2 linked regions of the Homo sapiens genome follow. The protein of the gene in region 1 purifies or fractionates together with the protein of each later gene. This does not show direct contact. Each region holds a gene or a part of one and is shown on either strand. Other genes may lie near its edges. The genes, in order: PLEKHA3 and SEC24D.

The links.
Region 2: the proteins of PLEKHA3 (region 1) and SEC24D purify together in Homo sapiens (affinity purification with mass spectrometry; one large-scale study listed by BioGRID and IntAct). This does not show direct contact.

The regions. Positions count from the first base shown.
Region 1 is NC_000002.12:178,493,739-178,497,559, reverse strand, and holds part of PLEKHA3 (pleckstrin homology domain-containing family A member 3), read right to left. Parts: intron 3,708-3,821; coding exon 3,571-3,707; intron 2,065-3,570; coding exon 1,900-2,064; intron 1-1,899. UniProt on the Homo sapiens protein: Plays a role in regulation of vesicular cargo transport from the trans-Golgi network (TGN) to the plasma membrane.
Region 2 is NC_000004.12:118,829,319-118,833,139, forward strand, and holds part of SEC24D (protein transport protein Sec24D), read right to left. Parts: intron 1-3,821. UniProt on the Homo sapiens protein: Component of the coat protein complex II (COPII) which promotes the formation of transport vesicles from the endoplasmic reticulum (ER).

The sequences.
Region 1 (3,821 bases):
GTAAGATGGTATTAAAAAATACATAAAATGGGCCAGGCGCAGTGTCTCACGCCTGTAATCCCAACACTTTGGAAGACTAAGGCGGGCAGATCACGAGGTCAGGAGATCGAGACCATCCTGGCTAACATGGTGAAACCCCGTCTCTACTAAAAATACAAAAAATTAGCTGGGCATGGTGGCAGGCGCCTGTGGTCCCATCTGCTCAGGAGGCTGAGGCAGGAGAATGGCATGAACCCAGGAGGCGGAGCTTGCAGTGAGCTGAGATTGCGCCACTGCACTCCAGCCTGGGCGACAGAGCAAGACTCCATTTCAAAAAAAGAAAATATATACATATATAGTATTTATATATATATTTATTTTATTTGTGTATATATATAACGGGCTCAATTGTCAAATAAATTTCAGCAACACTGTACACTACACTTCCACCTCTCAGAGATTCATAATACACTTCAGCATAAAAGAGGGTGTGACGGCTGGGCATGGTGGCTTATGCCTGTAATCCCAACACTTTGGGAGGCTGAAGCAGGAGGACTGCTTGAAGCTAGGAGTTTGAGACCAGCCTGGGCAACAAAATGAGACTCCATCTCTACAAAAAATAAATTTAAAAACTTAGCTTGAAGCCAGGAGTTTGAGACCAGCTTGGGCAACAAAATGAGACCCCCCCCATCTCTACAAATAATAAATTAAAAAACATAGCCAGGCACCGTGGTGTGCACCTGTAGTCCCAGCTACTCAGGAGGCTGGAACTTGGGAGTTTGAGGCTGCAGTGAGTTATGATGGTGTCACTGCACTCCAGCCTGGGTAACAGAGTGAGACCCTGTCTCTAAAAAAATAAATAAATAAATAAGTAAAAAGGCTGTGACAAGTCCCATCAAACCCAATTCATATCATTTAAGTTAACCTAGCAATTCCCAAATTAATCTGGCCATAAAACTCATTTTCATGGTACGCTTGCCTCAGAGGAAACTATTAGCCCATCAAATACTGATTAGAAAACAATTCTCTAAATAAATCTAGGCAATAATCTTTACTAAATCTCATAACTAAATTTGCTGGGATAGGTAAGAGAACCTAGGAAGAAGTTAGACCCTATTCTCCTAACAAATAGATCTTCAGGTAATTGCTGAAACAGCAACAAGGTGGCATTCTTACTCCTATAAATGGACTCCTAAAAACACTTTGATGCAATAAACTTGAAGTCTCATTAAAGCTTATCTCACCTACAAATTTCTAACAGCATGCTAGAGCAAATTTATTAGCTCAGAAAGGACAACGAATCTGCCACCCCTGGCAAAAAGAGGACTTGTTCTGAGCAATAAGGAAGTAAGAAACTAACACTGAGCACCTAACAGTAAGCAGGTCAGATCGTTTGCAGTGACTCTCTGATATACACTGTATTTTTACACATGAAGAAACTGAAGATCAGCTACTCTGAGGGTTCAGATCCAAATGCTTAGTAGAGAATACCGTTCCCACCGGAATATGTTTCAAATTCCTTCTAACTCCTTTAAAGATATACGTAATTGTACCCCATTGTGACTAAAATCTCATTCCATTGTGTAATTCTTACCAAGCAGAATAGAGCTCCCCAACTTTTTCTTTGTCACAGCACTTTGTAATATTTTCCTAGACACTGGGGAAAATGGATGAAGCAGCCTGTGGGCAGGCCATGCACAGCCCCTCCAAGGAGAAGGGAATGAGGACACTAGCACAAGTGCTCAGCTCATCAGCTAAGAAGCTCGAATATGAAACAGTACAAACAAAAAAATTCAACTTGTTAGCTGTTCCCCGCCCCCCAACTGCCTGCTTCCACCCTTAAAAATAAATACCAAAATGAAACGAAAACCACATGCAACATTACTACTGAGGGAAAAAACCAAAACAAGAAGTTCAAACCATTTGAACAGGAGAAGGTGACACAGGAGAAACTAAGGGATCCGGATGGTGCAGTTGAAACATCTCAGGTTTAAACTTGGCATTGGCTATCTTCACACATTCCTCAAGCGTTGTGATGAATGTGTTACACGTGGCACTAAGCAGAGAAGAGGCTTCATTCATGTTCTGAAAAATTACACAAAGACTTGAACAGATTTGCATACAACTACATGGAATCATATACAACCTTATCATTAAATAATAAGACATCTCCAACAGACACATTACTATGTTATGTTCAAATTTATTTAAAATACAGTACCTTAGAAAATTAAGCTGGGGCAAAAAAAGAAAAAAGAAAACATTAAAACATCTATGTATAAGAAATGCCTGTCTCCTAAACAATGTATGAAACTAGATTCTAAGAAAAAATAAGCTTTGCATTTAATTATCATATTGAAAAACTGTGTACAAAAGTTTATCTTAGAGAAATCTAACCTAAACAGTAATTTTCACTTTCCCAAAAGTGGACACAGACATGGAATACCCTTAGAGTTAATTAGTGGCAGTACAATTCATGCCTACCCTCTATCCATTCTCCCACTTCTTCCTTGATAGAGTAAAAAGCCCAATTTTGTTCAGGATCGCAAAGTGCCCTGATCCTGGGGGATGAATAGAGACTGATCTAACCTAGTCATGGCTATTCCAACACTCTTTACTAAATGCTCATTTTTTCCTAGTTTCCTTTGAGCCGGAAAAAAAAAAAAAAAAAAAAGATGAGAAGTTGGCTAGGGAATTTCTGGGATTTTTGTTTCCCGATTCAAAACCAAGCACAGCAAGTTGAGAAGGACTCTCTCTACCCTGGCAACCCCACTGCCTCCTGCCTCTTTGTGAGCTTGACAGTCATCTTGACACCTGGGGCATTAGGAGAAAAACTCAACACACCAAGAATGGCAGAGTGGAAGGATGGAACAAGCCTGGGTCCCTAATACTGTCACTGAGCTGCTGTAGCAAGTGTGAGGTCAACTACCTCCAGGGAGCTTGTGGTCAGTTTGTCCTTGGGCTTCTTACACAAGATTCCTCCCCAACAGGAGAAGGCCACAGAAGAAATAGGAAGATTTCTTGCCCCACTTCTACCAAGTTAGGCAAAAAGGGACAGGCAACATGCTGGCCTTTCACCCAGAGAGTGGTATAGCTCACTGGTCCTATTTTACCATGAAGAATGAGCCTATTATAGCCCGATCCTACTAATCTGAGTTTTGATTCCTAAGTCACTGTTCTGAGAAGGATTTGTTTTAAGTTATTTCATAAAGATAAGTTATCAACTCTCATAGTTGAAGCAGGGACCTTATTACCAAAAAAAGAGAATAGCAGCTGTCCAGTGAATTTATGCCGCTAGCCTGGAGAACAAAGCCTGGAATGCTTCTTCCCCACTCCAACCTCCAAATTATCAGACTGGCTGCAAAGACAAGCCTTGACCCCTGGAGAAATATGCTACTTCATGTTCTTCTCTGGCCACACAGACACAATCGAGAAGATGCTACAGATTTCCAGATAGTATACAGTAGGCAGAACCCAGAAAAGCTGAAAATAACTCAATGTGAAAATGCCTGTCATCTTATGGAATGACTGAGGATCCCCCCAGAGTACTCCAAAGCATAACCACACGTGAAGAGATCCTCTTCGCTCTACCTCTGCACTAGGAGATGAATGATTCTCATCATGGTGAACAAATTCCTGTATTGTATGAACTTGCTGCATTAAGAGGTCACAGTAGAGGCGAAGTTCAGACATTTTGGTTTTCAGCGATTCACTGGTTTCACTTATTTCTGAAAAGAATATACATAAATATACAGTTAGATCATTTTCATATTCTTTGAGCAATGTAACAAAATGTAATCATTTAAAAAAGCAATGAATATAAATACCTATAGCTCAAGAAA
Region 2 (3,821 bases), on another chromosome or scaffold:
ACTGGGCAACATAGTGAGACCCCATCTCTACAAAAAATTTTAAAATTAGCTGGGCATGGTGGGCACACCTATAATCCTGGCCACTTGGGAAGCTGGGGCAGGAGGATCATTTGAGCCCAGGAGTTCAAGGCTGCAGTGAGCTATAATTTCGTCACTGCAATCCAGCCTGAGTAACAGAGCAAGACCTTGTCTCTTTAAAAAAAAGTGTTAGGGGCCAGGCGCGGTGGCTCATGCCTATAATCCCAGCACTTTGAGAGGCCGAGGCGGGTGGATTACCTGAGGTCGGGAGTTTGAGACCAGCCTGACCAACACAGAGAAACCCCGTCTCTACTAAAAATACAAAATTAGCCGGGTGTGGTGGCGCATGCCTGTAATCTCAGCTACTCAGGAGGCTGAGGCAGGAAAATCGCTTGAACCTGGGAGGCGGAGGTTGCAGTGAGCCGAGATCGTGCCATTGCACTCCAGCCTGGGTAATAAGAGCGAAACTCCGTCTCAAAAAAAAAAAAGTGTTAGTATACAGCACTAGCTTTACAAAAACACAATGAATAAGCATAAATGGAGATACGATAATGTGAGCAACACAAAGCAAGAGTTAGCACTGGCCAGATCTACAGTGGAATAGATACTTCAAAGAACCACAATAAGTTTGCTTGTGTCTGTCAGGAGACCAATAAAAGCGTCACTAAAAGGCTAGACAAGAAGACACAGGAAGACTGAAGATTAAGGTATCTAAGGTTATTCAGCAGAATATAATCAGAGATATAAGAGCTGGAGTAATTTAGTGAAAGTCTTAAATAATTAAACCAAAACACCACAATATGCATAGAAAGATATATTTGCAGAGAGTATAATAGCCTGGTTATTCACCTGATATTTAATAGCCATTAAGTAAGGAGAAAGCAGTTTAAACTAAAGCATGAAGGATTTAATCCAACAAAGACAGCTTTTAAAAACACTGGTAAGGCCAGGTGCCGAGGCTAACGCCTATAATCTCAGCACTTTGCGAGGCCAAGGCGAGAGGATCACTTGAGCTGAGGAGTTCAAGACCAGCCTGGGAAACATAGGGAGATCCCATCTCTACCAGCTACTTGGAAGCTAGGCAACAGAGCAAAACCCTGTCTCAAATAAATTAATTAATTTAATTTAATTAAATATTGGTAAATACCAGAGTGTTTTGCTAATGAGTGCTACAGTTTGTCATCCACTTCATTGAATAAACATTTATAATTAGCTCAATTTAACCATTCCACAGTGTATACATATTTCAAAACAATATGTTGTACATTATATATATATGTATATATAATTTTTTATTTGCCAATTAAAATTTTTTTTTTTAAAAACAGCCATGAGTGCCTTCTCTGCTCCAGGAACATCTACTATAGGAACATCTATTATAACACAGTATGGCAAATAGTATAGAGGCCTGAAAAAGTATTAGAATACAAAAGAATTCAAATTAGATTTGCATGGTATAAAAAAATCCCTCTGGCTCAGGAGTTGATGGTTTGGAAAAAGACAGTATTGGAGAGAGGGATAATAGTTACAAGATCATTTTAGTAATCCATGTGAGAGATGGATGGATTGAACAAAAAGAGTGACAGGAGAATGGAAAGGAGAAAGCAGGTAGGAAAGCTGTTTACAATCACTCCAAAAAGATTTGGGAGACCGATTACATTGGAGGAGATAAAAAGGAGGGAGAGGTTTTTTTGCTTGTTTGTTTGAGAGAGTCTCACTCTGTTCCCCAGGCTGGAGTGCAGTGGCGTGATCTTGGCTCACTGCAACCTCCATCTCCCTGGTTCAAGCGATTCTCATGCCTTAGCCTCCCAAATAGCTGAGATTACAAGCATGTGCCACCATGCCCAGCTAATTTTTATCTTCTATTTTTTTAGTAGAGACCGGGATTCACCATGTTGGCCAGGCTGGTCTCAAACTCCGGGCCTCAAGTGATCCACTTGTCTTGGTCTCCCAAAGTGTTAGGATTACAGGTGTGAGCCACCACACCCCACCAAGTTTTGTTTTTTTGTTTTTTTAATAAAGTTTCTGGTATGGATCACGAAATAAATGATGCTAATGAGTGAGATTTGAAATGCCAGAAAACATAGGCTTCCATGATGAATATGGAATTGTTTTGGGCATGGTGACTGTGACGTGCCTCAACAAAGGTGGGCAACTGGAAATATGGGTCTAGAGCAAGCTTTTCCAACCCACGGCCCACACGCAGCCCAGGACAGCTTTGAATATGGCCCAACACAAATTTGAAAACTTTTTTAATCCATTATGAGATTTTTTTGATTTTTTTTTTTTTTAGCTCATCAGCTATTGTTAGTGTATTTTATGTGTGGCCCATGACAATTCTTCTCCCAGTGTGGCCCAGGAAAGCCAAAAGACTGGATACCCCTGGTCTAGAGCTTAGGGGAGGCATCTGGGCTGGAGAAATAGATCTGAGAGACAAGCACTTTCTGTGAATGATCCAGCTTAGGGAAAAATCTACAGAGTGGGATAACAGTAGTGAAGATGGAACATGGAGGGAGAAACAGCAACACTTAAGAGTCATGTAGAAGAATTCCTTCAAAAGAAATGTCCAGAAAGCAACCCAAAAAAATGGGCACAATGGCTCACACCTATAATTCCAGCACCTTGGGAGGTGGAGGCGGGTGGATCACGTGAGGTCAGGAGTTCGAGACCAACCTGGCCAACATTGTGAAACCCCGTCTCTACTAAAAATACAAAAATTACCCAGGCATGGTGGCGGGCGCCTGTAATCCCAGCTACTCAGGAGGCTGAGGCAGGAGAATCACTAGAACCCAGGAGGCTGAGGCAGGAGAATCACTAGAACCCAGGAGGCGGAGGTTGCAGTGAGCTGAGATCGCAAAACTGCACCCCAACCTGGTCGACAGAGGGAGACTCCACCTCAAAAGACAACAACAAAAGGATAGTGTCATTGAAACCAAAGGAGAAAAGAGTTTTGTAAAAATGAGAGTGGTAAACAGAGTCAAATACAAAAGAGGACAGACAGCACAATGTCTACTGCATTGAGAAATAGGACACTGATAGTCCTGGTGAGGGAAGTGAAAGTGTGGATGGGGTGGCAAACTATGGAGTGTAAACTATGCTGAGCCATGGAGGGAAGGAGAGGTAAAGGTGGAGATTACCAAGCATAGTGAGTACTTTCTCAAGAAGATGCCTGTGAAGAGGGAAGGGTGAATAATATAGAGTGTTATACTTAGGTGTGTATGCAATTTGTTTTTTGCCTTCTTGAGAGATCTGGGTATGAATCCTGGTGCTACTACTTGCTGTCTGTGACCTTAGACAAGTCACATGACACCAGACATTCAGTTTTCCTAGCTGCAAAAATAACTTACTGCATAGCATTGTATGAGGATTAAATAAGACAATACAGGAAAAGCTTTTAGGGCCAGATTTCGACACATCATAAAAAGGAATAATTTATAATTATCATTATAAATAAATGCTGAGGAGAAATGAACCACCAGTTAGAAACTGAAGGGGTTAATGGTTTCTACAGGATCCAGTAAGGCAAGATTACAAACATTCTGGAGAGGATGGTCCTGAACAAGAAGAGGGATGCTTCATCTGGACATCTTTAAAATCTCGGGAAGAATAAATCATAAGACTGACTTTCCACAGGAAATTCACAATCTCAGAGCATCTTCTGCAGCACACTGTGTGTGGCTGCTAACATCAAGCCTCACTAAAGGGAGTCCTCACCCCTTGCTGATTCTGCACTATATACATTCTACCTAGCACAGCCTGGATCCCAGATATCTAAGCTAGTTCCAGTGAGCCCTGAGAGTTAC